Linked DNA regions of Homo sapiens. The protein of the gene in region 6 interacts with the protein of the main gene of each other region in a biochemical or structural test. Each region holds a gene or a part of one and is shown on either strand. Other genes may lie near its edges. The genes, in order: FLOT1, IGF2BP3, LGALS8, CD44, STRAP, ANXA1 and RCC2.

Evidence for each region.
Region 1: the proteins of ANXA1 (region 6) and FLOT1 interact in a test that uses a peptide from one of them, tested with the Homo sapiens proteins (one large-scale study listed by BioGRID).
Region 2: the proteins of ANXA1 (region 6) and IGF2BP3 interact in a test that uses a peptide from one of them, tested with the Homo sapiens proteins (one large-scale study listed by BioGRID).
Region 3: the proteins of ANXA1 (region 6) and LGALS8 interact in a test that uses a peptide from one of them, tested with the Homo sapiens proteins (one large-scale study listed by BioGRID).
Region 4: the proteins of ANXA1 (region 6) and CD44 interact in a test that uses a peptide from one of them, tested with the Homo sapiens proteins (one large-scale study listed by BioGRID).
Region 5: the proteins of ANXA1 (region 6) and STRAP interact in a test that uses a peptide from one of them, tested with the Homo sapiens proteins (one large-scale study listed by BioGRID).
Region 7: the proteins of ANXA1 (region 6) and RCC2 interact in a test that uses a peptide from one of them, tested with the Homo sapiens proteins (one large-scale study listed by BioGRID).

Annotation. Positions count from the first base shown.
Region 1 is NC_000006.12:30,729,412-30,733,305, forward strand, and holds part of FLOT1 (flotillin-1), read right to left. Parts: intron 1,690-3,894; coding exon 1,508-1,689; intron 1,317-1,507; coding exon 1,271-1,316; intron 1,155-1,270; coding exon 1,017-1,154; intron 776-1,016; coding exon 611-775; intron 1-610. UniProt on the Homo sapiens protein: May act as a scaffolding protein within caveolar membranes, functionally participating in formation of caveolae or caveolae-like vesicles.
Region 2 is NC_000007.14:23,341,144-23,345,798, forward strand, and holds part of IGF2BP3 (insulin-like growth factor 2 mRNA-binding protein 3), read right to left. Parts: intron 2,711-4,655; coding exon 2,575-2,710; intron 1,047-2,574; coding exon 921-1,046; intron 1-920. UniProt on the Homo sapiens protein: RNA-binding factor that may recruit target transcripts to cytoplasmic protein-RNA complexes (mRNPs). This transcript 'caging' into mRNPs allows mRNA transport and transient storage.
Region 3 is NC_000001.11:236,547,167-236,551,071, reverse strand, and holds part of LGALS8 (galectin-8), read right to left. Parts: exon of another isoform or gene 3,111-3,905; intron 3,061-3,110; coding exon 2,911-3,060; 3' UTR 171-2,910; coding exon of another isoform or gene 82-170; 3' UTR 1-81. Other genes in the region: HEATR1 (HEAT repeat-containing protein 1), read left to right, coding at 82-170.
Region 4 is NC_000011.10:35,145,203-35,149,857, reverse strand, and holds part of CD44 (CD44 antigen isoform 1 precursor), read right to left. Parts: intron 1-4,655. UniProt on the Homo sapiens protein: Cell-surface receptor that plays a role in cell-cell interactions, cell adhesion and migration, helping them to sense and respond to changes in the tissue microenvironment.
Region 5 is NC_000012.12:15,891,592-15,896,246, reverse strand, and holds part of STRAP (serine-threonine kinase receptor-associated protein), read right to left. Parts: intron 2,201-4,655; coding exon 2,104-2,200; intron 889-2,103; coding exon 751-888; intron 1-750. UniProt on the Homo sapiens protein: The SMN complex catalyzes the assembly of small nuclear ribonucleoproteins (snRNPs), the building blocks of the spliceosome, and thereby plays an important role in the splicing of cellular pre-mRNAs.
Region 6 is NC_000009.12:73,161,219-73,165,873, reverse strand, and holds part of ANXA1 (annexin A1), read right to left. Parts: intron 3,093-4,655; coding exon 3,013-3,092; intron 2,399-3,012; coding exon 2,342-2,398; intron 759-2,341; coding exon 665-758; intron 1-664. UniProt on the Homo sapiens protein: Plays important roles in the innate immune response as effector of glucocorticoid-mediated responses and regulator of the inflammatory process. Has anti-inflammatory activity.
Region 7 is NC_000001.11:17,429,004-17,433,658, forward strand, and holds part of RCC2 (protein RCC2), read right to left. Parts: intron 197-4,655; coding exon 103-196; intron 1-102. UniProt on the Homo sapiens protein: Multifunctional protein that may affect its functions by regulating the activity of small GTPases, such as RAC1 and RALA. Required for normal progress through the cell cycle, both during interphase and during mitosis.

The DNA.
Region 1 (3,894 bases), on a different chromosome or scaffold from region 6:
ATACCAGGCACTATTCTAAACACTGCAAATATTTGCTCGAGCCCCTCAACAATTCAACAGGGTAGTTTCTAATTATTAACCCAATTTTAAGATGAGGAAACAGGTATAGAGAGGTTGATTACTTGTCCAAGATTACAGCTAGCAGGCATTGTAGCTAGGATTCGCAACAAAACAGTGGTTCCAGAGCCTGTTTGCTGACTTCTACCATGATCTACAGGTGAATTAACTGGGGCGCTGAGAAAAGCAGTGATATGCCCTAGAATTAATTAACTGTCAATAGGCTGCAACTAGTTCCCTATACTAGTGGGGTGACCACAAGCACAGGTTGCAGAGACAGTCGACCTGGATTTCACTCCAGCTGCACTAGCAGAATGAGTAGGAACATGCTGGATGTTGAGTTTCTGGACTTTGTAAAATCCTATATACCCTAATGGTAGTTTGATTTAAAACAACTCATTTATGTAGAAGCTTAGCACTGTGTCTGGCACACAGAAAGTGATTAATAAACATCAATGACTCCCAGGCCTGGATGCTGGTTAAATGCTAGGCATACTGTGTCACACAACACAGGAACCTAGCAATTCTCCTCAGCTCCAACCTGAGACCTCACCTGGGAGATGCTCACGCCTGTGAGTCTTTCCACACTCTCTGGCAGGCGAGTTAGAATGTCCAGTACTTCCCCAGTCACTTTGGCTGCCCCCATGGTCCCACTGCCGCTGGACACCAGTGTGATCTTATTGGCTGAAGTCAAGGGACCACTGATCTCCTCTGCCACCTGGCAGGAGAGAGACACCCACTCAGTGCCCATGATCTGACCACATTCCTCATAAAACAACTTACTCTGGGTTTTAAGGTCCTCGTTCCACTGATCATCCTTCCTCACTTTGGTCACTAATAATTCCCACCCCTAATTTAGAGTCCCCCTAGGCTGTTTCTCCCTAAGCCCCTCACTACACCCCACCCCTTAGTCCCTGGTTCTATTTCCTCCTTTCTTGGTGCCCACATGACCTCCAGACCTGGGGCAGCTTCTCTAGCAGCATGTCCAGCTGAGCAGCCTCTTGGTACAGCTGGAAGGCTTCTGCCTTCTTGGCCATCTGCTCAGCCTCGGCTCGGGCTCGGGCCCCTATGGCAAAGGCCTCAGCTTCCCCACGCATCTGAGGGTTAAGGATGCTTGTGAGATTGACGGAAATCATTAAGAACAAGAAATCCCCGATCAAGCAGCAACCCCCACCCTCTCCACAAGCCAGCATGGAACTGCCTCTTAACTCACCCGCACAGACGCGGCTTCTGCCTCCGCCTGCATAATTAGTTGGGACCTGTGGACAGAAGGGAAGTGGAGGGTGGAGCCCAGCAGCCCTTACTCCCAGGAGAAAGGCCCAGTGCTGCAGAGGCAGACGCTCCTGAAACCTGAAATCCATAGGAGTCCAGGTGGTGAAGGCTTCAGCACTCCATCTTGGGGTGCCTAGGTGGCAAGTGAGCTAGGCAGGGTCAGGGAGGGGACATTTACTTCTCTGCCTCGGCTAGGCGCTCCAGCTTGTAGCGCTCCGCTTCCGCTGGCTTCCGCACCCGGGCCTCCAGCTCCTTCTCCCGCCGGGCGATCTCCTGCTCCTGCACTGCCACCTGCTGGGCCCGCTCCACCACCTGCACCTGCACCCGCTGCTCCTCAATCTGCTGCTTAGTCTTGGCCACCTGGGTAGGAGGGTGAAGTCAGGTTCACGCTCTGAGTCAGAGGTGAAGAGCAAGTGCCCGGGAACCAGAGCTCCAGAGTGGGATATAAAAATAGGAGCCGGTGGCCGGGCGCGGTGGCTCACGCCTGTAATCCTAGCGCTTTGGGAGGCCAAGGAGGGTGGATTGCCTGAGTTCAGGAGCTCGAGACCAGCCTGGCCAACATGGTGAAACCCTGTCTCTACTAAAATACAAAAAATTAGCCAGGTGTGGTGGCGAATGCCTGTAGTCCCAGCCACCCGGGAGGCTGAGGCAGGAGAATTGCTTGAACCTGGGAGGCGAAGGTTGCAGTGAGCTGGGATCACGCCACTGCACTCCACCCTGGGCAACAGAGTAAGACTCCATCTCCAAAAAAAAAAAAAAAAAAAAAGGAGCAGGTGCATGAAGGTGGGTTCCCTCCTGTCTGCTTGGCCAGTCCAGTGGAGTCCAGTGTTTCTCTGATGAGCCCCCGTTTAATCTATTTTTCCCACGTGTGCCCCCTTCTAGAGTATAAATACCTTGAGGGCACTGAGCACATGTTGGCTTTCTGCTATCTCCAGTCTTGCTCAAATCCCCCCACTGTTGCTGCGATAACCTTAGTGCTAGCCTAGGCTACTGCAATAGCTGACTTATTTTTTGTGGGGGTGGGGACAGGTGATCTTTTTTGTCTTTTGCACATGGTGCAGATTTAACAGAAAAAAAAGTGAACCACGAGGCTTCTTCCTCATTCTCCAAACCACCTGGGTCCCTTTCCCAGAGAAACCACCAAGACCAGCTTCTTGTGTATCCTTCCAGGGATACTCTGAACATCTACAAGAATGTGTGTATTCATAGAATTCCTCTTATTTAGGCAGATTTCTTTCTTTTTTTTTGAGGCAGTTTCGCTCTATTGCCCAGGCTGGAGTGCAGTGGCACGATCAGCTCAGTGCAACCTTCACCTCCCAGGTTCAAGCTAATCTCTTGCCTCAGCCTCTCAAGTAGCTGGGACTACAGGCATGTGCTACCATGTCTGGCTAATTTTTGTATTTTTTTTAGTAGAGACGGGGTTTCACCATGTTGGCCAGGCTGGTCTCAAACTCCTGATCTCAAGTGATCCATCCGCCTCAGTTTCCCAAAGTGCTGGGATTACAGGCATGAGCCATCGCACCCAGCCTAGATTTCATCTTCTTATTCCTTGCAGTGTGAGGGAATCAGAAGGCTCTTATCAAGATGCTAGTGAGGAGAGGTGCCAGGCAAGGAACACATTTTTTTTTTCTTTTTGAGACATCATCTTACTCTGTCACCCAGGTTCAATGGCGTAATCATGGCTCACTGCAGCCTTGACCTGCCTGGGCTCAGATGATCCTCCCGCCTCCCCCTCTAGAGTAGCTGGGACTACAGGTGTGAACCAGCACACCCGGCTATTTTTTGTACTTTTTGTAGAGACAGGGTTTTCTATGTTGCCCAGGCTGATCTCAAACTCCTGGGCTCACGTGATCCACCTGCCTCGGCTTCCCAAAGTGTTGGGGTTACAGGCATGTGCCATCACACCCAGCCAGAACACATGCCTTCGTTGTCCCATTGCTCAGGCTCAGCCATGCACCATCATCATTGTAGGTCTCATCAATACATGTGATGCTTCCCCTGCCTCCTACCTTCCCCCGGGCCCATCTGTTCACTCCAGAGAGAAGCATAGCTCTGGAGACGGCACTCTGTACTGTCTTTCACCCTAAATTTTCAAACCCGTTCCAAACTGGCCTCGTTGCCCTCTACACCGGTGTGCAGGATCACCTCTCTCCTGTGTCCCTTAGGCAACCATTTGTCTGTTTCTTTTTCCTTCCTGTCTATGCCCACCTTTTGGTGAAACTCAACCTCCAGAAGCTTCCTCAGAAAGAATATAAAGACAATATTTTTTCTGAGGTCTTGCTTTCTCTGAGATTTTTATTCTACCTTTTTTTGAGATGGAATTTCGCTCTTGGCACCCAGGCTGGAGTGCAGTGACGCAGTCTTGGCTCACTGCAATCTCCATCTCCCAGGTTCAAGCAATTCTCCTGCCTCAGCCTCCCATGTATCTGGGATTATAGGTGCCTGCCACCACGCTCAGCTAATTTTTGTGTTTTTAATAGAGATGGGGTTCCACCACATTGGCCAGGCTGGTCTTGAACTCCTTATCTCAGGTGATCCACCTGCTTCGGCTTCCCAAAGTGCTGG
Region 2 (4,655 bases), on a different chromosome or scaffold from region 6:
TTGGCCTAAGATTTATTTCTTATATAACCTACCTCTTTACAAAATAAACATCTGCTTAATGTATGCACGCACACACACAATATAATTGTGCACAAAACTATCTTATCTCTTTGGTTTAAAAAAGTACACTCAACATGGAAAACACACAGAGTCACTCCTGACCTTTCAAAGCCATTGACTTCAGGTGACAAAGATGAAAGAAGCCTTTAAAAAATCTTTTCCTTTAGTATTTAATAATTACTGGCCAGGTAATAGCTCACGCCTATAACCCCAGCACTTTGAGAGGCCGAGGCAGGCAGACCACTGGAGGCCAGGAGTTTGAGATCAGCCTGAACAACATGGCGAAACCCTGTCTCTACTAAAAATACAAAAAAAGTAGCCGGGTGTGGTGTGGCACACACCTGTAATCCCAGTTACTCAGGAGGCTGAGGCATGAGAATCATTTGAACCCGGGAGGTGAAGGTTGCAGTGAGTCAAGATTGTGCCACTGCATTCCAGCCTGGGCGAAAGAGTGGGACTGTGTCTCCAAAAACTTTTAAATAACCACCATGGCACATGTATACCTATGTAACAAACCTGCACATTCTGCACATGTATCCGAGAACTTAGAATAAAAAAAAAAGAAAAAAGAAAAAAGAAAAAAAATTTTTTTAAATAAGAAAAACAATTACTAAGTTTCTTCCCCTGCCACCTCAAAGTCCCAAACTTTTGTTGTGATATTTGAAAACACATGTTGACAACCCCGCTATCCAAAAACTGCAAAATAATCCCATGTCTACTCCACAAAGGGCCAAATAAGAAGGCTCCATTAGCAAGAACTGGAGAGCATATGTTGGCATCTAAACAGATGATCACGCGGGGACTAGGTTTACATTAAGATTTTGCCCAATCACAAAGAAAGCCAAGGCCAGTTATCTTACCTCAAACTGCGGGTAGGGAGGAGTCATGGCTGAAGGGGGCCCTGAGGTGGGAGGTGGCATCCCTGAAGTGGGTGGGAACAGACCCAAGGCGTTCAGATTTAATCCAGGAATTAAATGTGCTTGAAGCTGCAACAGTAAAAAGGCCCCTTAATTTGACAATTAAAAGAATCAAGGGAAAGTGAGCATTTTTAAGTGACAGTATTCAAACTGATCTCTTGTCTAATAAAGAAATGATTGTATAACTCAAAGCAGATGTTCCATGGGACTCTACTTGAGTACATCGTTTACATCTGTTTATATCCCTTGGTATTTTAAAATCTGTGTGCTGGTTTGCCCCCTCCTTGGTCCACAGCTGCATTAAGATATCTCAAGGGAAGCTTTCCTTTCCCTTATGACTAGCCCACAGGACTTAGACAAAACCGTATTCTGCATGCTGTGGGCAAACTAAATATAGACAAAAAGCAATGTATCAGAGTTGAAGAGGTAATCAAGTAAGATTGGTTCATTGAAAAGCAAACCAGCTATTAAGAGATCTTTACTTGCTGGGTAAAACTTAGCAACCATGGGTCTAGAGGCCTCAAAGTTGAGCCCTCTGGAAATCAGGACCCATCCCCATGTAACTACTGCAAGTAAACATATCACTGGAATGGAAATAGGAGCCAGAAAGGGTATTTTAATTTGTTTAATTTTATAAGGGTTGAGGACGTAATGTAGACGGTGGAAGGGAGATTTGAGTGTACTTGAAAATCTTTTTAAAAGGCCTAAGGGGGTTAGATTTAATCCCAGTTGATTCCAGAACATTTGGAGCCAAGCAGTGAGAATTGAAGCAGGTTGGCAAGAAGTCACGTGGGGTGTAAAATGGCTAGCATTCTAGGCTCTTCTCACAAACGCAGTATTTGCACATTTCCCTCGTCTCAGGTTTTGTGTTTCAGATGACTGGCCCAATTGAAAAAAAATTATTTTTTAAAGTCATTTACTTTAAAATTTAAGACAGGCTTTTGAAGTATTCCATTTTCAGCACCATTTCACTGATTAAGGAATGTCAGCAATTTGCTTTAATAGCCTCAGATGCACTACACAGATTGTTTTATCAATTGAAATTCTTGTATCTCCAAGGTTTATATGGCTAACCAAGTTTTAAACCTGTAATCTTAACATTAACTTTTATATGCATTATATCTATTGTAATCCTAATAAGAATGCAAGGTAGGCAGTAGTCCCATTTTACAGATGAGTAAACTGAGCCTCAGAGAGACTGAGTAAATCATATAAGAGAAGAGAGCTGCAGCTCATAAATGGTTCAGCTGTGATTCAAATCCAGTTCATGTAACATTTCTTCTATATTAAACTCTCTCAAATTAACATTGTAAGAGAGGTACTATATTAACCTTTGTAGGTAGACACTAGCCTTACTTCAGACAGAAGGAAGCTAAGGCTCAAAGACTGAATAATTTGCTAAAGTCACAGAGACAGCAAAGCTTAATGTCAAAGCCAGTATCTTCCCTACTATCCCAGGGTACTTGCTGAGGTGCTAAAAATCAACTAGAACTACTTCTAGTGATAATGCCACAAAAGAATTCAATATTAATGCAGTTAAAAACATTGTTTTAACTATTTGTTAAAATAAAGACATGCCCTTCATAACAAAACTAACATTCATAGAAGCAATATCATTTTCATAAGACTCCCTGATTTTCTTCATGATCTCCTCCTCAGCTTTGGCACATGTCTCAACATTGCCTTTAACTGTAATAGTGCGTTCTGGATTATACAGCGTCAATTCCTGCAATCTGCAGAATGAAAAAGAAGGGAAAGAAAAAGAATGAAAATTGGAGGAAGACAGCTAATAATTCAGCCACAGACGGCAATTAAAAACAAACTGTGGAGCCTGGTAATATGTAAAAGTGGGTGGTAAAACATGATGGGAAATGAGTAAGCCCCAAAAGACGTAAATCCGAAACTGTAAAGCTGCAAGAGAGAAGAAAATATTTGCCCTCCCATTTTCTCAACTAACGATTACTGGATACATATAGTTCAATCAAGTCCATATTTTAAATAAAGCTTACTTCTCAACCGCTTAAAGTTGAACCATTTTCACAATTGAACAGTGAATTAAAAAATGACTGGAAAGATGTATAGTTTTTGAGGAAACCAAATACCCTAAGTACATAACCTTTCATAAGTATGTTCCTAGTCTGTATTAACCAATTCTAGGCATAATTGGCATTCTCGTGCAATTGCATTTTCTGGGTCACCAAGCAAGGAGAAAGCATGGAAATATTCCAAAAACACAAGCCAGAATTCCTGTGTCTAAACTTAGTTTTTACCAGTTTCTTTAGAATTTAGATTGAAGTAGGCTGGAGGAATATCAATCCATCTTGACTAAAATTTAAAATGGTTCACCGATGCCATTTAGATAACAAAAACGTTAGATAGTGGCAGAAATATTCAGAAACTCCCTGCGGGACCTAGGTCCTGCTGAACCTTCAAAAGCCACTGAATATCATACCTGAAAACACCTAAGCCTATGCTGGTCAACAGCCTTGAGAGGAAAAGCAATGGGAGACATGTGCCATGGAAAACAGAACTAAGTACATAAATTGAGAGGATATGGATTATTGGTACAAATCTCCTTCATCTTCCTGAAGTTCTCATTTTCACTACTAGTATAATGTCACAGGCTAACCTTGAGCCAGATGAATGGGAAGTTATTCCTTAACATTTTCCTCAAACTTGTTAAAAATGTAAACATTTGTATAATGAAGACTATTTCTCTTAGACTACTTTAAAAAGAAGTCTATAATTCTAATTCAGTCTCAACCTGGCCCTGCCAAGCATTTTGTATTACAGTTTTAAAAATAGCTGCTTCTAGAATAACTTTTGAGATTTTTTTCTTTTAAAACTCTCCCCTTTCTGGGGGTAAATTTAAGACAAAGTAGTATTACTTATTGAATTTACCACTTTGTGGGGTTTTTTTCCCCCTTTCTTTACAACCAAACAGAAGTTTCCTGCTTCCTTACTACCTCCTTTGAAAACTCCTTGTACACAAACACCGTGCAGTCTTTCCCCTACCACTCTTCCTCAGTTCATCAATCTTTTCCCACCTTTTTGAGTACTCTGAGTGAAACTAAGAATGGCCACCCTCAGAAAAACCTTTCCACGTAATTTCAGAGCATCCACAGATTCTAAGTGTGGTAGCCTGCCTCCAAGGTGATTCCTGTCACCCAGTTATCTGTAGTCCCACACATACATACCAAATAGGGCTGACTTGTGTAAACAACATTAGAAAAATGATAGAGTATAACTTCTGAGGCTATGTCATAAAAGACATTGCAGTTTCCATCTTGACAGCTGCCATGTCTTGAGAACACTCAAGCAGCTCTGTGGAGAAGCCCATGTGGGAGGAACTGAGGCCTTCTGCCAACAGCCAGCATCAACTTGTCAGCAGCATTGTGAGACCCCAAGCCAGAACCACCCAGCTAAGCTGCTCCTGCATTCCTAACCCACAAAAACTAGCTGAGCAATTAATGTTCACATTGTGTTAAGCTGTCAAATGTTGGGATAATGCGTTACACGACAATGGATAATAAACTGGGTTATATATTCCAACTTTGGGAATAAATGTCATAAAACATAGTTAAGACTGCTTTAGAAAACATGAATGTAAAGCATTTGGTTCCTCCTGCCAGAAGCAGATAATGCTTTCAATACGGGTCAGAAACCTAACAGGCAGCA
Region 3 (3,905 bases), on a different chromosome or scaffold from region 6:
GCATTAAGAATTAAACTAATGAGAACCGAGGCAGGCGGACTGACTCAGATTTTAATTTTGATTTTTTTTTTTTTTTTTTAGATGAATGTGAAGAAGTAGAACATCAGTGCCAAAAGACTATTCAGCAACTGGAAACTGTCCTGGGAGAGCCACTCCAGAGCTATTTCTAAGACTTTCTGTGGTGTTTCATACTCTACTCAGAGTTCACACTCATATTTCATATTTTTATTTTTGGGTGTTGGGTGCCATGTTACTTTTGGTGCCTTAATACACCTACTTGGATTACTTACAAATGTTTTATCACTTCTTTACAAAATCCCCACCTGGCTTGTGCTGCCACATAAGCCTCTCCTGCCTATCGTATAGAGCTGCAGAAAGAGTAAATGATACACGGTATTTTTATACAGACTGCTGTGTTTGTTTAAACATTTATTATTCTCTTCCTGATTGATGGTAATAATATTAGACTTGTTAATTTTAGCACCCAAAGCTGACGCCTCATTTGCACTGTAAGCCTTAACTCTTCTGTACAGCAGTATCTTACATACATGGTATCCATGTTGCAGATTTCACTCAAAGTTGCTCTATTTCAAGAAAATGAAGTTATTTAGCAATCAACAGAAGTACTTTTGACTGTAAAGCCTACTTTTCATTTTGGGTAGGCGAACTTCAGCCTTCGTTTCTTTGTTGTGCCCATAAAGAGAAGTGGTTCTGGAATGCTTTTTTTAACCCAGGAGTGTGACTGTCACCTTTATCCTTTGTTCTTTTGGGAAACGGGAGAGATGAAGGCAACACGCTGCTTCTAAAACAGCTCACACCTGGCTGCTCACACAGAGGGCCCAGAAACACTGGGTGGCACGAGGAAGCTCCTCCAGGATTCAGAATGAACCCAGTTCCATTGGTGGTTAACTAAGAACTACTTGTCTAAGAAAGTAAGTATCAGTAGATTTTTTTCAATGCTTTGAAGTGCCCTAATCTCTAGTACTGGGTCATGGTGAAGTTGGAAAGTGAGGGTTCAAATAAAATTAGATCTGCCCCCTTTTTAAAGGCATCTAAGAACATCCCGTAGAATGTTCGCATTGAGTTTAAAAGCCTTTGAAGCTAATATAGAAGTTTAATGCAGAAATGTGGCAAGCAAAAGGCCAACTTGCATTTTAGAGACAGAGCTTGCTAGTATAGAAGTGCATATTTCTAAGAAATGTCTCAGTAAAATTCATTAATAAATACTAATAGCTTTTTAAATTTTTTTCCTCCACGTAAAATGAAAATGAACTTAAGACTTACAAGGAATGATGTGAGTGGGCTATTTTTTTCCTAAATGCCTCACAGTCTCCAACAGCTCAGTTAAGCACTCTGATGGTCTTTATGGAGAAAAATAACTCTGGGGGATTCTCGAGTCTTCTTGCCTTCTACAGCTTTCCCTGTGGCACCCTCCACCCCCAACCAGTGTCTTTGAGCTTGGTGAGACTCTGCATACATTAATATGAAAAGCTGGAAAAGAATTAAGGGCTAGCGATTTCTACACTGAGTACTTTTAAAAAAATAAGATTGACAATGGTATTCTTTTCAATATATGGATAGAAATAATATCTAAAATCTGTTCTGAAAATATTCCTAAATCCTGGCAGAGTTCTGCCCCAGTCTAATGTGATAAAATGATCCTCACTGACTGAGCTTTTTTCCCTCCCCACTCCCAAACCTTTGAAATTTCCTGTAACAAGATCTGACCTGTAAAGATCCCATATACATGGAACTTCTGCCAACTCCCCTCAAATAATAGAAAAATCACAGAAATGGAACCATTTAACTTGCTGATACAGGTTTGATTTTAATCACGTAAAGTGGAAGAGTGCTTTGATCTCAGTTGCTAATGATGATGGACTAATCTTTAGAAGAACGGAGGCCTTGATTGGTGATTTCATGGGAACAAAACAGATTTCTGCATTACCTCTGCCTGCTTTGTGGGTCCCTTAGTTGGCGTACACTTTCTGATAGTGCCTGCCTTATGAATGCCTGAAGTCTAATCCTGACCTTACTTTGTTGCCCATAAATATCTTTCAAATTGAATGCATCTTGCCTCTTCCTGAAACTTTCTGTAGGCGTCTGTGTAGACTCTGATTTGCCCTAAGTTCAAATACACAGAAATCAGCTGCCTTGGGCTTGGCATCAAGTTAATTTCAGCACCATGTATTTGTTTTGCTTTGGTTTTTTGCCTTAATTTCTGTGCTCAGATGTCATGCCAATTACTTGGTAAAGCTTGCAGCTAATAGAGCCACATGTTTATTACGATAAAGAAAATGATGTCAGTCAACATCAGTCCTCAGTGATGGGATACGGTAGAGCACTGGTTATGACAGTGATCACTGGGGAAGGAGTTGTGTCTTCTGTAAGTTAGTGTCTTCGGGTGATTTAATATCTGCATAACTAATCCCAGAGGACCCCTTAGGAGTTGATGTAATGCCTGTAGAAAAAGCAGTGCGCAGCAGTAGCGCACAGAAGAGTCGAAGCTCAAGAGAACAGGGAACATACTGGTTTGTTTCACCAAGTATATATCCTAGCTCTTCACAGTTTTACCAAAAAAAATCTGTGCTCAATACATGTTAGCTACTGTATTATAGTAGGTACTCCATAAATACTTGTTGAATGGCATTCTTGAAGAGTCAGCCAAAGTAGGAGAGAGGGCAGAGTGGCTTTAACTGGCTATAAGTGTTGCTGCCCCCAGTTTCCCCATTCAGTGCTAGACACCACCATACTTCATGGCAAGGACTGAGAACACCCAGCAGGACCTAATGGTGCACAAGCTCATTTTAACAATATAAACAATAGAATGACAGTGAGATGCGTTTCAGCAAGGCCAGTATCACAGAAGCCATTCTGTATTTTGGTTTTTGTAGCAGCTGTGTAGGTAGGCTACCAGCTCCTTACTTCCAGTAAGTGGATGTCTCCATTAATTTCCAGCGTGTCAATACTGCTGAGCTCTTTAAATCTGTGTTTGTACTCCAGGCTGTGTACGCCATTTACTGCAACCTTGAATTCTCTAACATCACAATAAATTATCATCTGAAAGGAAAGGATACATGCCATTAGTGGTTCCCCTTAGTTTAAAATTTTGTGTTTGTTACATGCTAACGGTGTCAGAGTAAACCATTTGATTATACATAGAAAAGTTCCAGCCTGCTGCTGCTGACTTCCTTCTGACTTCCAAGACCCTAATCTAACTAAAGTGTCCCTGGTGGTGGCACTGTCTGCCTCATCCCACCCAGGGAAGTGACTCGGACATGTTTGGAGCCTCACACCATCCCCAGGGCCTGCGGCCCTCCTTTCCTCAACACAGCCCCTCTCCCTCGGCCGCATCCTGCCCCTTGCTCCTGGAAAGCCAGAGTGCTGCCCCTCCTCGCCGATGCTGGGGACTCTCCTAAAGCAGGAAAACTCACTCCTAATATGGTTGCTTTAGTTCACCGAGATGCTGTTTCCAGCTGTAGCCTGGAACCAAGGGACTTGGATCCTGACTGACTTTTCTGCCTCAAACTCTAGGACCATGAACAAACCAGACAATTAATATGAAATTTCAGCAGCTTAAGGCACTTGCTAGGGTTTTTACAGCTGCTTGGTGATCCTGATCCTGATAAGCTCAGCACATCTTGGCCTCAGTGTGTTTGTCCAAAGCCGTCAAAGCTGGGTATCCCGTAAGTTGGAAGTGGTGCACATACTACAAATTCAGATCCATCGGCAGTGTTCGCCCTTCACAGTCATCTATGCCCAAAACTCAAACAATGAAAAACCAAAAAACCTACTAGCCTTTTACATCACCTTTACACCTACACTTCATACTTCTGGTGCCACGCTGCCAGTGCCAGGCTGGGTTTCCACCCACTCTGAGAAGGCCACTGGGAGGCCCTGCACTG
Region 4 (4,655 bases), on a different chromosome or scaffold from region 6:
GTAATTGGGTCCATATGTTTATTTCTGGCATGGATTAATAATTCACTTTTGACATTTAATACAAATCAGGCATCAATTTTTTTTGACACTGCCTTATGGTGGTTTTGTGTTATTCTTTCCATTAGGTTTTATGAGGCTCAGGTGTTAGTAAGCCCACAGAGTGGTGAATTTATAGAACATGAGGCCTGGAAAGGACTTGACAGATCAACTAGAATCCAACCCTCGCATTTTACACATGGAAAAATAGAAGTAAATGGGGGTGAAATACTTTGCCTAGCAGCACATAGTGAATCAGTAATAGAGAGAAGCTAAAATATAATAATCATTTCTATTCTTGGGATACCTTCTGTGAACTAAACATTAAGCTTTAGAAATTACGTGCTAAGTATTGTTCCAGACATTTAACAAGTGCAACTGCCCAAGCTCACGCTGCTGTTAAGTGGCAAGAGGGGAATCAACTGGTGTATGGGTCCTCCCGTCTTGTTCCACTGCCTTTATACCTTCTAAATGACTCTTATCAAAGCCAGACCTCCTCATCTTCATTACACCACACCAAGCATCTGATTATATGGAGGTGATTTTTAGTCTGGGAGGTTTTCAAACCATTGACCGAAAGAAACAACTGCCCTTTTATTCCTCTAGCATGGTGACCAAAAAGCCAACAATTTTTCTCTGAGTATTGTTGAGAACATGATTTTAAGGTTTGGGGTCTTTTTATACATGAGGCCAGATTTGGAAGTAAAGGTGTAGACAAAGAGGCAGCCAGACCTATAGGAAATCCAGATCCCCGTTCTACTGGACAAAATACAATTAGCTCTAAACTTCCCCTGCCTTGTGTAACATTTCAAACCTCAAGAAAGATCTCTTTAGACTGAAGAGAGTGCAGAGAACAGAAATTTCAAGGGAGGAGGCGGGTTGAGGATCGCTACAAGTAGCAATAGAGAAAAATGAAAGAAGATTTGTATAGACCAGAAAGAAAAAAAATGAAGAAAAAGAATTAGACAGAACCTATAAAAATCACAAAAGATAAGTAACGGAGATGGCTTTGCTAGCCAAGTCTAGAAACATTATTAATTCAGTAAGCCATCCAAGTGTTTATTGAGCACCCACTATAATTGGGGAACTGTGCTGACCGCTCAGGGCTATCATGAATATGAAAATGTATAGAGGGTTTGGGCTTTTCCCTAAGGAGCTTTTATGCTCACTGGCAAAAGAAAAGAGATAACCATTACATGGCATCCTTTAAACTTTCTCTTTTTAAATGGAGATGTGTTTGTGAGGTTTTTATGAATTTTCAGGGGGAACAATAGGAGAAAGCAAGTCACTTAAGGGAGTCTACAGGAATGTACCTGACCTCTAATGATATTGTAAAGACAACTAGTCTCACTGCAGAGGATCCACTGCAAAAACAAACTCCTTGACAGGAGATTTCTTCCCCGAACTTTTATCCCCTCTTGTGGGTTACCTGAATTCCCCTCCCCCTCTTGCAGGCAGATGTGGGCCCAGTAACTCACTGGTGGCTGCGGAGCTGACGTCAGCTGGTTTCCTGCAAGATGGTGCTTAGTTAGCTCTGTTAGATTCTGGTTTTTTGACTGGATACTCAGCAGAGGCAACATCTGTGATTGGCATGTAGTAGCTACTCATTTAAAGTGTGCAAAGACTAGAGCTGGGGGCTTGGGCAGAAATGCCCTTCTAAGCCAAACGCAGGAGACCAGGTGTTGGCTGCATGGAATTGTTCATTTCTCCCTGGCACCTTTTTTTTTTTTGAGACCGAGTTTCGCTCTTGTTGCCCAGGCTGGAGTGCAATGGCGTGATCTTGGCTCACTGCAACCTCTGCCTCCCGGGTTCAAGTGATTCTCCTGCCTCAGCCTCCCAAGTAGCTGAGATTACAGGCATGCACCACCATGCCCGGCTAATTTTTTTGTATTTTTAGTAGAGACGGGGTTTCTCCATGTTGGTCAGGCTGGTCTCGAACTCCCGACCTCAGGTCATCCGCCTGCCTCGGCCTCCCAAAGTGCTGGGATTACAGGTGTGAGCCACCTTTCCCAGCCCTCTCCCTGGCATCTTAATGTGCATAATAGTGAACACTTGCAAAGGGGCTTTACTGTTATCGTGCTACTATCTTGGAAAGGAAGTGGAAAAAGATGCTGCCTAGTTCCACGATTGGTGTGTGGATCCTCCTAGAAGTCACTGCAGACCTGTTAAGTGTAAAGAGATGCACTAAAATTGAAAAAAAAAAAAGTTGGGGGAAGGGGGCTGGAATATGGGATGAGTCCTCATTCCCAGGAAAAGGCCTGCATCCCTTCCTGTGGACTGAGCCAGATGTTCCCAGGGGGCCTTGCCTCCTCCCTTCCTGGGTGGCTTTTTTCTCAGTGAGGGGTACCCAGAGGAAACTCTCTTGCTCCCTGATGGGATGGTCACATGCTGGGCCAAATAGAAGCCTGGTCATCTGGTTTAGGCTAGGGCTGGAGAGAAGGGCTATAGTATACTTCCAGCTTTTGCCAAATTCCTTGTGCCCTGGATATGTACAGCCCTACTCCTGACAGCCTCTTTTCTCAGAGTTTCTCTCCCTCCCTCATCCATTCTAGCCGGTGGAGAGAAGACCCTGGAACCAAGGGCCTGTAAGGTGAGGGCAAATATTTTGCTGCTATTTGATTGGCTCATTTCCCAGTCAAAGTTCTAGCTGATGGAGAAACACTAATCAGCCACCTTTACCTTTCATCCAGGTGACAAATAATGAAGTGATAATGAACAAACAACTCAATTCACATCCCTTTCAGCCCTATCCTATCCTAATGAACAAACAACTCAATTCACATCCCTCTCAGCCCTACCCTATCCTCAACTTTCCATCACATGGAAGAGAGTAGAGCTTCTATTCAGAGATCAGAATGAATGAGTCAACTCAGAATATGCATTGGCAGAAGTTTCCATTACAACTTCCTCCTCCTTCATTTTTGCAATTCTAACCCCTTCCTCTGACATCATGTTTAAAAGCTCAGTGGATGTTATGACCTCACCCACAACTAGATTCCCAAATGAAGTTTTTGAAAACAACTACAGTACTTCCAGGTACAATCGTCTGGATTTCTAGGGTGCCTCGATATCTTAATATACCAAGAGAAGCACTCTAACATAGTGACAAAGAGCATGAACTCTGTAGCCAGATGTGAGTTTGAATCCCAGCGCCATCACTTATCAGCTGCATGGCCTTGGGCAAGCTACTTAAATTCTCTGTGCCTCAGTTTCCTCATATGTAAAAGACAGATAATAACAGCACCACCTTCATGAAGTCAGTGTTTGGATTAAACAAGGCAGTATATAGGAAACAATTAGAATGGCGCTGGTACATGGTCAACACTCTGTAAGTGTTTGCTATTATTACTAATAGTGGTGAGGGTTCTCAGAAACATAGAACTTGTGCAAAGATGCAAACAGAAAAAGCGTAAGAGCTCTCAAAAACAAATGAACTTTCAGGCACTGCGAAGGAGACTTGCAATGCCACAACAGCAGATGCTCAAAATGACTGGTCTATGTGAATAATCTCTTCCCTCAACCCCGGAGTTTTGCAATTAACCTTTACTTTTAAAAGCTGAAGACCTGAAAGTTTCTGGGACCTGAGTTTTGCAAATCACCTCCTTGGTGACTCAGTCCCTCCCCACCCACCTGAGATCTGTCTGCCCACACTTGCACTTCGCAGGGACACTTACCTCAGGAGGACACACCCAGGCAGCCAGTGCAACTCAAACTCGGGGAGATCTGGCTCTGTGAGTTTCCATCGTTCCCCACCCCCACAAGACCCACCCCCTCATTCTGTGTTTGTCTCCCTGTCTCTCAGGTCTAGCTGGGCAGACAATCTTTGGGAAGACAAAACCTGCCCCAGTTATGGGTAATTTCTGACATCACAAGCTCTGTGGAGAGGAGACACCGTTTGCCATTGCCAAAGTGGCTCCCCGTCGGATGTCAGGATTCCCTACGGATTTGCCCCCGAAGAAGCTATGGTAGTATCTGGTCAGATGACAGCTTGATAATTGCCCAAAGAGACCGACAGAGAAGGCAAGAATCTCCCGCATCTCCCATATAGTACTTCTACTTCTCTCCTCTGCCACCACCTTCCAGAAGCAGACATGGGGGTTGGAGGAGTGTGGGCCTCTCACCCAAGGATCTCAACCTCGTATCAGTATCTCCAAAATAACTAGAACCCCAAGGTGGCTGCTGCTGGGGAGTGTTTTTGTTTTGAGGCTTAAATTTGGGGTTGGTGTCCTCATCTCACTGGCTCCCACTCCCTTCTCAGCCCAACTATCTAGTAACCCTGTCTTTAGCCAGATGTCCCCAGCGGTCACAGCAGGCAGCCACCAAAGCCGCAAACAAACAGATGGGTGAGCTCACTGTTTGGGGTAGACCAAACATGAGGCCTGTGGTGGGCAGTCAGCCAGCCAAGTCAGCCCTGTCCTGAGCAACACAGCCATCACCATGGTTCTCACTTACACATAAATGTATTTGCACCTTAGCCCATACTGACAGCATGCTTCCATATATATAGATATCATGACTTTTATATTCTAGACATTCATTGCAGTTCAACAGTTATGGGTCAATATTACTGGGATCTGGGCCCACAAAAATGAATGTGACATGATCCCTGTTATCAGGGG
Region 5 (4,655 bases), on a different chromosome or scaffold from region 6:
TTTTGTTTTTTTTGAGACAGAGTCTCACTCTGTTACCCAGGCTGGAATGCAGTGGTGTGACCACAGCTCAAAACAACCTCCACCTCCTGGGATTAAGCAATTCTCCTGCCTCAGCCTCCCAAGTAGCTGGGATTACAGGTACTCACCACCACACCCAGCTAATTTTTCTTCTCTTTGTATTTTTATTTTAGAGACGGGGTTTCACCATGTTGGCCAGGCTGGTCTCAATCCCCTAACCTCAAGTGGTCCGCCCACCTCAGCCTCCCAAGGTGCTAGGATTACAGACGTGAGCCACCACGCCCAGCCCACACTGGTTTTATATAGTAAAAAACATTAATGACAGCACCATTTCAGTAGTTTTTGCTTTTTTTTTTTTTTTTTTTTCAGAGGAGGTTTTGCTTTGTCATCCAGACTGGAGTGCAGTGTCAAGATCACAGCAAAATGCAGCCTCAACCTCCCAGGCTCCAGCAATAGAATACTCACCTCAGCCTCCCAAGCAGCTGGACTACAGGCGTGTGCCACCACACCCAGCTAATTTTATTTTTTGTAGAGATGGGGGTCTCACTGTGTTGCCCAGGCTGATCTCAAGCCATCCTCCCACCTCAGCTTCCCAAGGTACTGCGATTATAGGCATAAGCCACCACTCCTGGCCTCTTTACTTTTAAAAAAAGTAAATACCTTCCCATTTTTAAGTAGCCAAAATGTCTTTTGTTACCTAAAAAAGAAAATGAAAGTATTTCTTGGACATACCTTACTGCACTATGAAAAGCAATAGATCGTCCATAAGTTATAACCAAAATCTCTCCCTCAGGAATATATTCCATACTACTAACAGACATATTAAAATTTAGAGATTTCACTTCTGTCATAGTAGCATGATCCCAAAGTCTGCAAAATAAAGATAAAAATATGATGTTTACTCATGTAAGAAAAAAGTTTATAAATTCTAATTACATCTGCAGATTAGCCAACGAAAGAACAATCACAATTACAGAAAAACAACATTCATTCCAAGTCACAAATTACAGATGATTAAAAAAAATTCTGGGTTTCTATATACAATGTCAAATTATGCATGATAGCTTGTAAGTAAAATCAACTTTAATACCTACATACACTTCCCAATTTGGCAAAACTACATTATTAAGACAAGTTCTAATCTAGTCAATTTCAGCATTGCTATAAATAGTGGTTCTTACACTCTGTTTTTGTGAATCTAGTAATAGCTACACATCTTTCCAAAGAAATATACATCAGGTGTCAGCACACAAGATTTTGTATAGAATTTCAGAGGCTTCATGGTCCCTCCCTTTAACCATTCTGCCCACAGACCCAGGTTAAAAACACCTGCTTATAAGGTATCAGCAATTTAATTTTCTTCTGAATTTTGCTGTCTGTATACACAAGGTGAGCATCCCTTAATTGAAAATACTTGGGACCAGAAAAAAGTTGGATTTCAAACTTTTTCGGATTTTGGAATATTTGCATTAGACACTTACCAACTGAGAATTCCTAACCTGAAAATAGGAAATTCAAAATGCTCCAATGAGCATTTCCTTTAAGCATCAAGTCGGCACTCAAAGTCTCAGATTTCAGAGCGTTTCAAATTTCAGATTTTCAGGTTAGGGATACTCAACCTGTATTAGTAAATAGATAGCTCCAGATAAATGTGACCTGGGTGCAACTTAAATTTTAATGTTCAGAACATTTTTCACACATAATATTAAATGTATTTAAAATATAAGCTCTAAGGTAAAATATTTTGCAAATTTTAAGTTTGTTTTTCTTTTGAGACAGTCTAGCTCTGTCGCCCAGGCTAGAGTGCAATGGCACGATCTCGACTCACCGCAACCTCTGCCTCGCAGGTTCAAGTGATTCTCCTGCCTCGGCCTCCCGAGTAGCTGGGATTATAGGTGTGTGCCACCGCGCTTGGCTAAGTTTTGTAATTTTCATAGAGACAGTATTTCGCCATGTCGGCCAGGCTGGTCTAGTACTCCTGACCTCTAATGATCCACCCGGCTCGCCTCCCAAAGTGCTGAGATTATAGGCGTGAGCCACCATGCCCGGCCTTAAATTGTAAATTATTAAAGAAAAATTACTTACCGAACAGTTTTGTCATCAGCAGAAAGAATCTGTTTATCCTCACTGCACCACAGAGCTTTTTTTATACCAGAAGTATGACCACTAATTTCCTTAGGTTCTTGAGATAAAACAATTTAAAGTACATTTGTTAATATATGATTTTTTAAACTGAACAATATCGGAACAATTATATATTTTTAAAAACACACATTTTAAATTAGACTGCAACTTTTCAAAGCCCAGCCCAATTCAAACTTGATGTTTATATAGAATACAGTTAGTTTTTCTATATTGGAACATAAATTTATCTGCATGACAGGGACCCAAGGAACTACCATGCTTGCTATATGTAGCTGAGTGAATGCACCACTCACTCCCTCTAGGCTAAATTTCTGCACAACTGATAATATTCAAAAGCATTATTGTATAATAAATAAAAAGTATTTTATATTTATTATATGTATAATAAATATAAAAGCATTATTGTATAATTGTATAAGTATAATAAATATAAAAGCATTATTGTATAATATACAATATTTATTTGTACAATAATACAAATATTATTGTATAATATAAAAGCATTATTGTATAATTGTATAAGTATAATAAATATAAAAGCATTATTGTATAATAAATAAAAAGTATATATTTATTATATGTATAATAAAAAGAATTTTATATATAATAAAAAGTATATATTTATTATATGTATAATAAATAAAAAGTATTTTATATATAATAAAAAGTATTTATTATATTATTAATAAAATAATTAACGTGGCATAATTTAATAAGAACACGGACTCAGGAACAAAACAGTTGAATCTGATTGCAGTACTATGGCTAACTCTGGGACGTTTATCCAAGCAGCTATTGATAGTAAATAATGAGAAATAAGGGTTGGAAGGAAAAAAGGGAAATAGAAAGTGGGACAGCAATTCCCAAGAATGTTTCTACACTGTGAGGAAAACATAAAAAAAAAGGAAGGGAGCTTAAATCTGTAGGAGATTATCCTTTCGAAGAACTTCAAAAAACCCTCACTGCTGTCTCTAGGGGCAAAAGCAGACACTGGAGGCAATGCCATTCAACACTATTTTCACCTTTGGGCATGTTACTTAACTTTTTAACTTTATTTCCTCATCTGTAAAATGAGATAACAATGGTTACAAATGCGAATAGGGCTTAACAGATACCCGATACACAGTAAAACCTCATTTTATTTTCTGCTGCCAGCACAGCGAAAGAGCAACTTTCATAAAACAGCTTTGGGAAAGGTAAAGAGCATGAAAAATGTCAACCCAATCCCTGAACTACCTTGCTTTGACCCAATCCCTGAACTACCTTGCTTTGTTGAATGGGTTCATAGAAGAAGTGAGGTCAGAGTCCTTTGCTATGTTTTGGCATAGATTTATCAAAAAAGAAAGGAGAAAAAAACTTCTACATGCAATGGAGAATAAAAAAATCTGCAAATGCGCTTTGTTTCCTCACCTTAAAAATGTTTTCATAACAAATTACTGTAACATTAAAATGTAAAATATTTTAAAAAGTTCTCAGAAATGGAAGGTATCTCAAGAGAATAACCGCTTAATTTCCAATGTGGTTCTGACTCTCTTATTACTCTTTAAAATTTTATAGATTTATGACTACATAAATGTCCACATAATAAAATCTGAAAGATACCAAATATATAATAAAACAAAATTATGTTTGTCATGTTTTGGTAGCTAAGTATATATATGGTGAGGGAAATTATTAAAATATTATAAAATAAACATGTAGACTGGGGAAGACACCTATAACTTCTGTAAAATGAGAGAATGCATAAAGAATTTCACCACCAAAATGTTAAAAACATATATACCATAAAACCACCTTAACAAAATTTAAAAGCAAATGATAAATTAGAATTCAATAAAGAACCTTTAAAAACCAGTAAGAAAAACATGAATAACACAACAGATAAATGGACAAAAGGTAGACAGGCAATTATTCCATAAAAAAGGGAATATATTAAAATGGTATTCAATAGCATTTTAATCTCATGAATATTCACATTAATACAACAGAATTATTTTCTTAAATTGACAAAGAGAAAGTTAGTTATCAGTGCTCACTAGAACATGTTGGGTATAGATACATACATATATACCCATACTTTGTTGGAAGACACTTTGGTAGTATCTATCAATGGCTTCCAACAATTCATTTTTTTTTTTTCTTTTTGAGAAGGAGTTTTGCTCTTGTCCCCCAGGCTGGTATGCAATCTCGGCTCACTGCAACCTCTACCTCCCGGGTTCAAGCGATTCTCCTGCCTCACCCTCCTGAGTACCTGGGAATTACAGGCGCCTGCCACCATGCCCAGCTAATTTTTTTGTACTTTTAGTAGAGATGGGGTTTCACCATGTTGGCCAGGCTGGTATTGAACTCCTGACCTCAGGTGATCCACTCACCTTGGCCTCCCAAAGCACTGGGATTACAGGCGTGAGCCACTGCGCCCGGCCACCTTCCAACAATTCCACTCCTCTTTGTCCCACCAATTCTACTTTTGCTTAGTTATCTTAAGGAAATCA
Region 6 (4,655 bases):
TGCAAATGTTGACAGTTATTAGAAACGGCATGTGATTGACAACTATAGCACTTCCTACAGCAGTTCTAAGAGCCACAGCAAATGGATCTTCCCTTATATAAAGACCTGTGCACTAAATTTCTCTTACATTTAACAGTAGAAATCAGTATACTATTATAAGATGGTGAACTTTGGTAATTGTCATAACTTTTCCATCGCCTTCACTTCCAAGAGGCCCAGAGCTAAATCTTGCACTCAAAGGCCAGGACTTTTTCTGAGTTTTGTCTTGTTGTTGTTTTTCCAAAGCACCTACATATTTCTTTCTTCATTTAGCTCTGAGGGTTTTTTGTTTTTTTTTTTTTGTTTTTCTTCATTCTAATTTCATTTGTTCTGTTATGCATGTCTTTTCCCACACATATTCCAAATCTTTTAGGGGAGTAAAAGCAGTGAAAATAACAAAATTATGTTCCACATGCCCAAGTCACAAAATGTATTAAATATGATAAAGTAGCGGCTGTACAAAATTGGACAAATTGACAAATAACAATGGGTCAGGAACACTGTATCTGTTTGATACAGGAGTGATATTGAAAAAGGGTTCTGTTTTTACTTTCTCTTATTTGTCATCAAAAAAGAAAATTGCATCTTCCATAAACAGATTCCAGAAAAAGAAATTTATTGTTACCTCTGCGAAGTTGTGGATAGCTTCTGGTGGTAAGGATGGTATTGAACACGTTTACGTCTGTCCCCTTTCTCCTTTCTCCTGCTTCATACAAGGCCTGTCAAGAAACACAAAAGTAAACACTTCACTATCTGCTGAAATGATATCTGCACAATAATGTTAGACCTTGTCAAAGATTATATAGGCAATCGCTTTGTGCCCAATACAATCAGAGTAGTCAACAATAAGATTGCAAGTTCTTTAAAGATAGGGACCTTATTTTGTTTGTCAAATATCTTCCACAGTTTCTCTCAAGGTGCCTTGTAAACACTAGAGTCTGAATATATGTTTGCAGAATAAATGTTTGCTGAACTAAATTGCTTTAAGATTATGCTCTATAGTAAGACAACTCCAAGGGGATCTCTAAAGATTTTTTACTCTGTGTTGTTCAAAGTAATTATCAGCAAATGTTACTTATAAATCAATAATTCAACCGTAACCTGGACCTTGCATTTTGATGTTAGAATTTCTGTATTCAAATTCTGACTCTGCAATTTCAAAGCTGCATAATCTTAGACAAATAGATCAACCTTACTAAATGACAGATTTTTTTCTTTTATATATGAAAAATATAATCCCTGCCCTATTGTCACAAGCGGTCTTTATTAACTTTGAAATGTTGACTACCATCATTCTCTTGGGTCACACTAATCCATGTAACCTCCATAAATATATATTAAGAACCCTGATAGTCTTAAAATGGAAAGCAAATTCAGAAATGTCAAAAGCAAATAAGAATTTTTTATTATGGGCAATTATTCAAATGCTAACTCTTGTTCCTTAATATGCTTGAACAATTTCTATTAAAATGATAAAACCTTCAATGTATGTAAAAATTATTTTGCATTTTTCAAGCAAATTGATCTGATATGTATGCATTTGTTGAACAAAAAGTTCATGAGTGCCTATTATGTACATGATAATGTACTGGTATAGCAGAAGTGGATGGGGGTGCACAAAGAAATCTCTATCCTTAGTGAAGCACTGTAATGAATTCTCTAGAGAATACTGTTCCATGAGAAGGCATAATGCAAATATTAGTTGTTTGTTTGTTTTAAATGGAAATTCCAGGCTTTAAAATGATATGATTTTTCTTATGTTGCCAGTGGTTTGGCATATAAATAATCAGCAATGTCACTGAAACTAAATAAAACAATATGTTAGAAAGCATATATTATTATAATTTATCCTATACTCTTGTTATATCATTGCAGTAATATTTTGACAATATAAATTGACATCTATAAACCATTCCAAAGTTCTCTGTTAAAAATAACGTTAAATATGCTTACTCTTTCCATTGCACATAATAAAAAAATTACATTTCCCCTTCTTATACCTAGTACAACGAAAGGTCAGAGTTTTTTTTAACAAACAATTCTTGGGAATGACAAATCAAATTTGTATTGTCCTTCTTCAGTTCTCTCTGGTTTTACGAATAATGAGAGATATTGAAAACTTACAAAGACTACTTTTTTGTGTGTGGGGGCTACAGAAAGACATGCCTCATTCAGGAAATGAACATTAAGAAGCCATTGGTCTCTCAGAAGATCTTAGATTTGCTTTCACAGGGGATCATGTGGTAGCCCCACTTAAGGTAGGAAGATGAACTGCAGCAGTATTTTGTAAGCACTTCCTTACCCTGGCATCTGAATCAGCCAAGTCTTCATTCACACCAAAGTCCTCAGATCGGTCACCCTGAAAGAAATCCCATTCTATTGTAAGCTCTTCTCTAGCATGTAATTGCATGATTTACTTAATTATCTTAAACTCAGATAAATAATATTTTTTGAGAAAAAGGTATTCTATTACTCATTTCTAGAAGGAGCTCAGATACAAGATTTTACTTGCGATGGTTTTAGATGTTCTTCCCCTCCAAACCTCATGTTGAAATTTGATCCCCAGTGTTAAAGGTGGGGCCTAGAGGGAGGTATTTGGGTCCTGGGGCTGATCTCTCATGAAGAGATTAATGCCGTCACTGGGAATGAGTTCTTGCTCATGAGAACCACGAGAGCTGGTTGTTAACGAGGCTGGCACCTCCCCATTCTCTCTCTTGCTTCCTTTCTTGCCATGTGGTCTCTGCACACACCAGCTCCCTTTCCTCTTCTGTCAGGAGTGGAAGCAGCCTGAGGCTCTCACCAGACATAGATACCCAAACTTGAATTTGTTAGCCATCAGAATCCTGAGCCAAATAAACCTTTTTATCTTTAAAAATTACCTAGCCTCAGATATTCCCTTATAGCAACACAAAATGGACTAAGAAATTAGTCTTTATAAAACAAGAGGCATTTCCTAAAGTATCTGAGTTGTACCTTAGCAAGAGAAAGCAAAGCGTTCCGAAAATCTCCAGATGTGTCTGAGGTTATGTCTTTGGCCAGATCTCTCTTCAGTTCTGAGAAAAAAGAAAAATAGATTTTATAGTAAACCAGTGATGAATAATAATAAGAATATCTGACATCTCTAAGTTGGTTGAAAATTCACAGTGCCACAGTGTTCAATGACTTATGGAACATGTTGCAAAATATTATCATTTTTAAATAAGAAGAGAAAAATTAAAGCAGGTAAATTTTTGGATCATTGAATTTATTTCATATGAAGCAATGGGAGCAATTTAGATAATACTGTGATTGAAAACTCACAGTCATAAAGCTTTCGTTAAGAATAAATTGTATAGGTATACATTAGTAATTAATTCTGAAATACAACATGGCAGAATTTAAGCAATAGAATGAATAAAATAATTGTTTAAAAGAACAAAATGAGGTACTTGCTTGAATGCAAATTATTTATTTAGTTTAAAAACTATAAATGTCTTATAAGTAATGCAGTTTGATGATTTATGTGTGTGTAAACACTTCTGCTTAACTACATAAAATAATACTGTAATAGGAAAAAATAATTGAATTTATAATTGACTAGTGCTATGGTTTTCATATTGTTTGTTTGGCCCTGCCAAGTCTCATGTTGCAATTTATTCTCCACTGTTGAAGGTGGGGCCTGTTGGGAGATGTTTGGATGATGGGGGCAGATCCCTCATGAATGGCTCGGAGTGAGTTCTCATTCATAGTTTCTTTAAGAACTGGCTGTTGAAAAGAGCCTGGCACCTCCTTTTCTCTCTCTCCCTCTCTGCACACATCTGCTTCTGTCTGCTTTCTGCCATGAGTAGAAGTAGTATGAGGCCCTCATCAAAAGCAGACGCTGGTCCCATACTACTTGTACAGTATTTCCTTTCTTTTTACATTACTTGGTCTCAGATATTTCTTTATAGCAACACAAACGGACTAAAACAACTTGAAACTGGGCAATGTAATAAACTATCACTGGCCTATATCTTGGCCATATGAAAAATATATAAACACTTATTTTTATAAACTATGTTTTATCAAACAAAAATAATCATCATTATTACCACTGACACATGGATCTAACATAAACATTGGTAATTAAATAAGAATTGCAGAAAATGAGGTTTAAAAGCTTCCTTATTTTTATTCTTTTATTAAATTCCTCTGAAAATGATATGCAAAAGCTATTGTATTCTCCATGCTTGGTATGAGAATCAAGCAGAAAGATCTTCTATATGCCATATATTGCATTGGGAAAGCCAAAAAGCCAGCAGCTCAGGGAAATGAGAGTAGGAAAATGGTAAGAGACTTGCAATTACCCTCTTTTCAGTGTTGAGCACATCATTTAAATGAGATGCTTCACTGGAGAGATAAAATAAGCTAAGACTAGTCTTTTATTCTGTGAATTTAACTAGAGATAAAGTGAGTCTCTTATGTTCATAACGATAAAGTTAAGGTTTCCAACAGAGAATTATAAGCACCTAATTCTTTACTTTTTCAAGGACAAATGAAAAACATTTTGTTAGGAGATTTTTTTGTTATTATATATTCTTTTCAAAAAAAATGACCTTGGGACATTTTTATAAAATACATTCCAGAATAATAGAAAA
Region 7 (4,655 bases), on a different chromosome or scaffold from region 6:
AAAATGCATTTGTAAATGAAGGGAATACCTACCAGGCAGGTGGTCAACAGAACCTAGCACTTAAGAAGCACTCAATGGGTTTTTGAGGCACCATTCTCATACCTTGCTGTTTAGGCACTTCTTTTCGACCAATCAAGTCCCAGTTGGTTGCCCCAAAAATCAAAAGCTGCCCTTTGCACTTTGACCCTTCAAGTTTCTGCAGAGACAGAGAAAGGAAAAAAGAATTAGTGTGTAAGTCTGCACCTAGCTTTCCAAGGCTGTCCAATGACAGCACGAAACGAAAGAAAATCATTCAGTTAGCCCTTATGTCACCTGTGACCTCCACACGAACAGAGTCTCCCCACACTCCCCTCCCTCATCGGCAAGTGGCAATGCGGGCAACCCCAAACCTGCCCACAGCCGCTCACTTGCTAAGCCCAGGCTCATTTTTATCCTTTGACTTCCCTTTAAAATAGCTTTTGCAAAACACTAAAAAAAAAACCCAAATACATGCCTCCTTCGCAAACTGATGTACAGAGGTATTTGCAGGAAGCCTGCCGGACACTCAGGGGCGTTAAATCCAGCTCATCCTAGGGCCAAGTCTCTATTTCACATGGCAAGCACGGCCTGCGACCTCAAACCTTAGGAGCCTCACATCACTTCTGCTGCCCACTCTGCCGAGAGCCTTTCCATGGGGACTCAGGAAGAAAACAGTAGAGAACAAGGTTCGATTTCTCCACTGAAGGGAGACCAGGCAGAACACAGCTTTGGTGGGTATGCAGGGGTCTGAATCAGGCGGCCTTTGATGGCACCCTCATGCCGCTGTCCATGAGCCCGGGAGCCAATGGTGAGTGAAACAGGACCTCCCAGGGGCCCGGCTCTCAAGGAACAAGCTGTCACAGCAGCCAGCATACTTCAGTGTTCATCCTCAGTCTCTCAACACAAAGTCATCAGGGCCACCAACTCTCATACTGTCAACGAAAATCTACGCCATTTAAAAAGGCCATTGTTCAATTCTGGGTGGCACTCATAATATTCTCAGCACTTTGCTTCCTTAAATGTCAAAATATACTTTTTCAAGTAGGTTGTTAGTGGAAGACTCAATTCTGAACTCCTCACTCAGTCCACACTGGCAAGGGAAGCATTCACTGCTATCACTTTCCGCTCTTACACATCTTTCCTGGACGTGAAAAGGAAAGGGGTTTCCTTCAGTTTACAGAATTGTTCTTGGAAGGCTTCAGGAAAAAAGTCTGGCAAGGCGCAATGGCTCACGCCTGTAATCCCAGCACTTTGGAAGGCCGAGGCGGGCAGATTGCTTGAGCTTGGAGACCAGGCTGGGCAACATGGCAAAACCTTGTCTCTACAGAAAATAGAAAAATGAGCCTGTGGTCCCAGTTACTTGGGAGGCTGAGGTGGGAGGATTGCTTGAGCTGAGGAGCTGGAGACTGCAGTGAGCCAAGATCACACCTGCTCTCCAGCTTAGGTGACATAGCCAGGCCTTGTCTCAAAAAAAAAAAAAAGGGGGCCAGGCACAGTGGCTCACGCCTGTAATCCCAGCACTTTGGGAGGCTGAGGCGGGTGAATCACGAGGTCAGGAGTTCAAGACCAGCCTGGCCAATATGGTAAAACCCCGTCTCTACTAAAAATACAAAAAAATTAGCCAGGCGTGGTGGCATCCGCCTGTCGTCCCAGCTACTCCAGAGGCTGAGGTAGAAGAATCCCTTGAACCCGGGAGGCGGAGGTTGCAGTAAGCTGAGATTGCACCATTGCACTCCCAGTGTTGCTGCCCAGGCTGGAGTGCAGTGGCGTGATCTCGGCTTGCTGCAACCTCTGCCTCCCGGGTTCAAACGATTCTCTTGCCTCAGCCTCCCAAGTAGCTGGGATTACAGACACTCAGCTAATTTTGTGTGTTTTTAGTAGAGACAGGGTTTCACTATGTTGGCCAGGCTGGTCTCAAATTCCTGACCGCAGGTGATCCACCCACCTTGGCCTCCCAAAGTGCCGATAAAATGCCAATAAAATAACGCCGATGAAAGTTCCCAACCATGCCAATAAAAATGTATTTGTTGGCCAGGCGCGGTGGCTCACACCTGTAATCCCAGCACTTTGGGACGCTGAGGCAAGCAGATCACGAGGTCAGGAGATAGAGACCATCCTGGCTAGCACGGTGAAACCCCATCTCTACTAAAAATACAAAAAAAATTAGCCGGGCATGGTGACCGGCACCTGTAGTCCCAGCTACTCGGGAGGCTGAGGCAGGAGATTGGTGTGAACCCAGGAGGCGGAGCTTGCAGTGAGCCAAGATCGCACCACTGCACTCCAGCCTGGGCGACTGAGCAAGACTCCATCTCAAAAAAAAAAAAAAAAAAAAAAAAAAATATATATATATATATATATATGTGGGCTGGGTGTGGTGGCTCACGCCTGTCATCTCAGCACTTTGGGAGGCTGAAGCAGGCGGATCACCTGAGGTCAGGAGTTCAAGACCAACCATGGTGACAAAGCCAGCCCTGTCTCAAAAAAAAAAAAAAAAAAAAAAGAAAGAAAGAAAAAGAAAAAAGGGCAGCTCCAGGCCCAATCATTCTAACCTCTACAGTGTGATCACCCCATGGGTATGCTTTGGCAGTACGGCTCACGCATTTCTAAGATTACACATCTTCATGACGGATGATTTCCACTTCAATAGGAACCTTTACACGACCCAAACCTGATTAGGGCGTCCCCCAAGATATAGGTTCCGTCACGCTTGCCCACTCCACCACATTATGTAACAGGAAAAAGATGGTCAATCTACAGGAATGCATCCTGCAGTCCTCATGAAAAGGGGAAGTGAGGCCAGCCGCGGTAGCTCATGGCCCGTCATCCCAGCACTTTGGGAGGCCAAAGTGGGTGGATCACCTGCGGTCAGGAGTTTGAGACCAGCCTGGCCAACATGGTGAAACCCTGTCTCTACTAAAAATACAAAAAATTAGCCGGGTGTCTGTAATCCCAGCTACTTGGGAAGCTGAGGCAAGAGAATCGCTTGAACCCAGGAGGCAGAGGTTGCAGCGAGCCGAGATCACACCATTGCACTCCAGCCTGGGCAACAAGAGCGAAACTCTGTCTCAAAAAGAGAAAAAAAAAGTTGGGGGGAGGGAAGTGAAACAACACGGAAAGGGAGAACAACTTTGGTTCATTTAAATTATTTAGAAAATGACCTTAATCAGAGGGTGGCCCAGCCCCTGCAGCACCCACAACTCAGGTTACTTGAATTGGAGCCTAGCTTCCCCTGGTTATCTGCCCTTCTTTGTTTAACTGGCAGGCCTGGCTGGAATATGCTACAGGTCTATATTCAATGGCTTCTGTTGAAGTCCCTGTGGAAGGAGAGGCCTCTGGGTCCTCTGCCCAAGCCTACCAAGTTGGCATGGAGGGGGCAGTAGAGACCCAGGAAGGGTGCTAAGGCACTGGAGACCAAGCTCCCAGGCCAGAGGGCAAGCCTAGAAAAGAGCCCTGGAATGCCAGCAACTGCAGACCAGGCAGGCGGAGGTTCATGGGCACCTGTGCTCAGTATGAACCATTGAAGTCAAACCACCCTACACTGAGATGCAACCACTGCAGCAAAACTTCACAGTGCTGAGGCCACACCAGAAGCCTCAGCTCCATCAGGCCAGAGGGCATGGTTCAGGGGCAAGTTCAGACAGCCAGAGCTTAACCGCAGTGGCCTTGGCCTTGGGGAGGGAGTTTCCTGGGTGACCTGGACATTTGGTCAAGGGCTCATGAAGACTGATCCATCAAGCTAGCTAAGCATTTATAGGCAAACCCAACCACGCCAATAAAAATGTATTTGTGGGCCGGGCATGGTGGCTCACGCCTGTAGTCCCGGCTACTCGGGAGGCTGAGACAGGAGAAGGGCATGAACCCGGGAGGCGGGGCTTGCAGTGAGCCGAGATCGCGCCACTGCACTCCAGACTGGGCGAAAGAGCGAGACTCCATCTTAAAAAAAGAAAAAGAAAAAGAAAAAGAAAAAAATATATATATACACTCACACACACATATATATACACACACACACACATATACATACGTGTGTATACATATACATATATACGTGTGTATGTGTGAAAAACCCCGGTAAACTGAGTCTACTCCAGTGACGGTGGTCAGATTCCTATGAAGGACATTAACTGTTATTCAAGTTTTTACGTCATGGATCCTATTTCCTCACACATTAGATGGAGGTTAGTGTATTTCGTTATTATTTACATAATTGTTTGCTCTAAGCTGCTTTCTTTTATTTCTCTATAACTTCTTTCCTCTGCCTTATGTGGAATTAACATTTAAATAGAGTAACAGAGAACTCCCAGCACCCCTTCTCACTTAAGGGGTGCTCCTCTTCCTCAGAGACCAGAAACAGCCAATCGTGGGAGAGACTCCCGCGCTTGCGGGCTCCACCCGGGGCGGCGGGGCAGGGCGGGGGTGCCAGTGGGTGTGTGGGTGTCTGAAGCTCAGTGTGCCCTCCCAGGCGGAATCCAGCCTTCCCTGATGGGCCTACGGATTGTTTTTTTGGACGAACTCAGTGTCTGCGACCCTGCTTGTGTATAAAGGCCACGCAGCAGACAGCCTGGCAAACAGTCTGCCCAATGAGATGAGTGATTTTCATGTCATTTCACCTGGCTGCCTCCAGCAACTTGGTCACA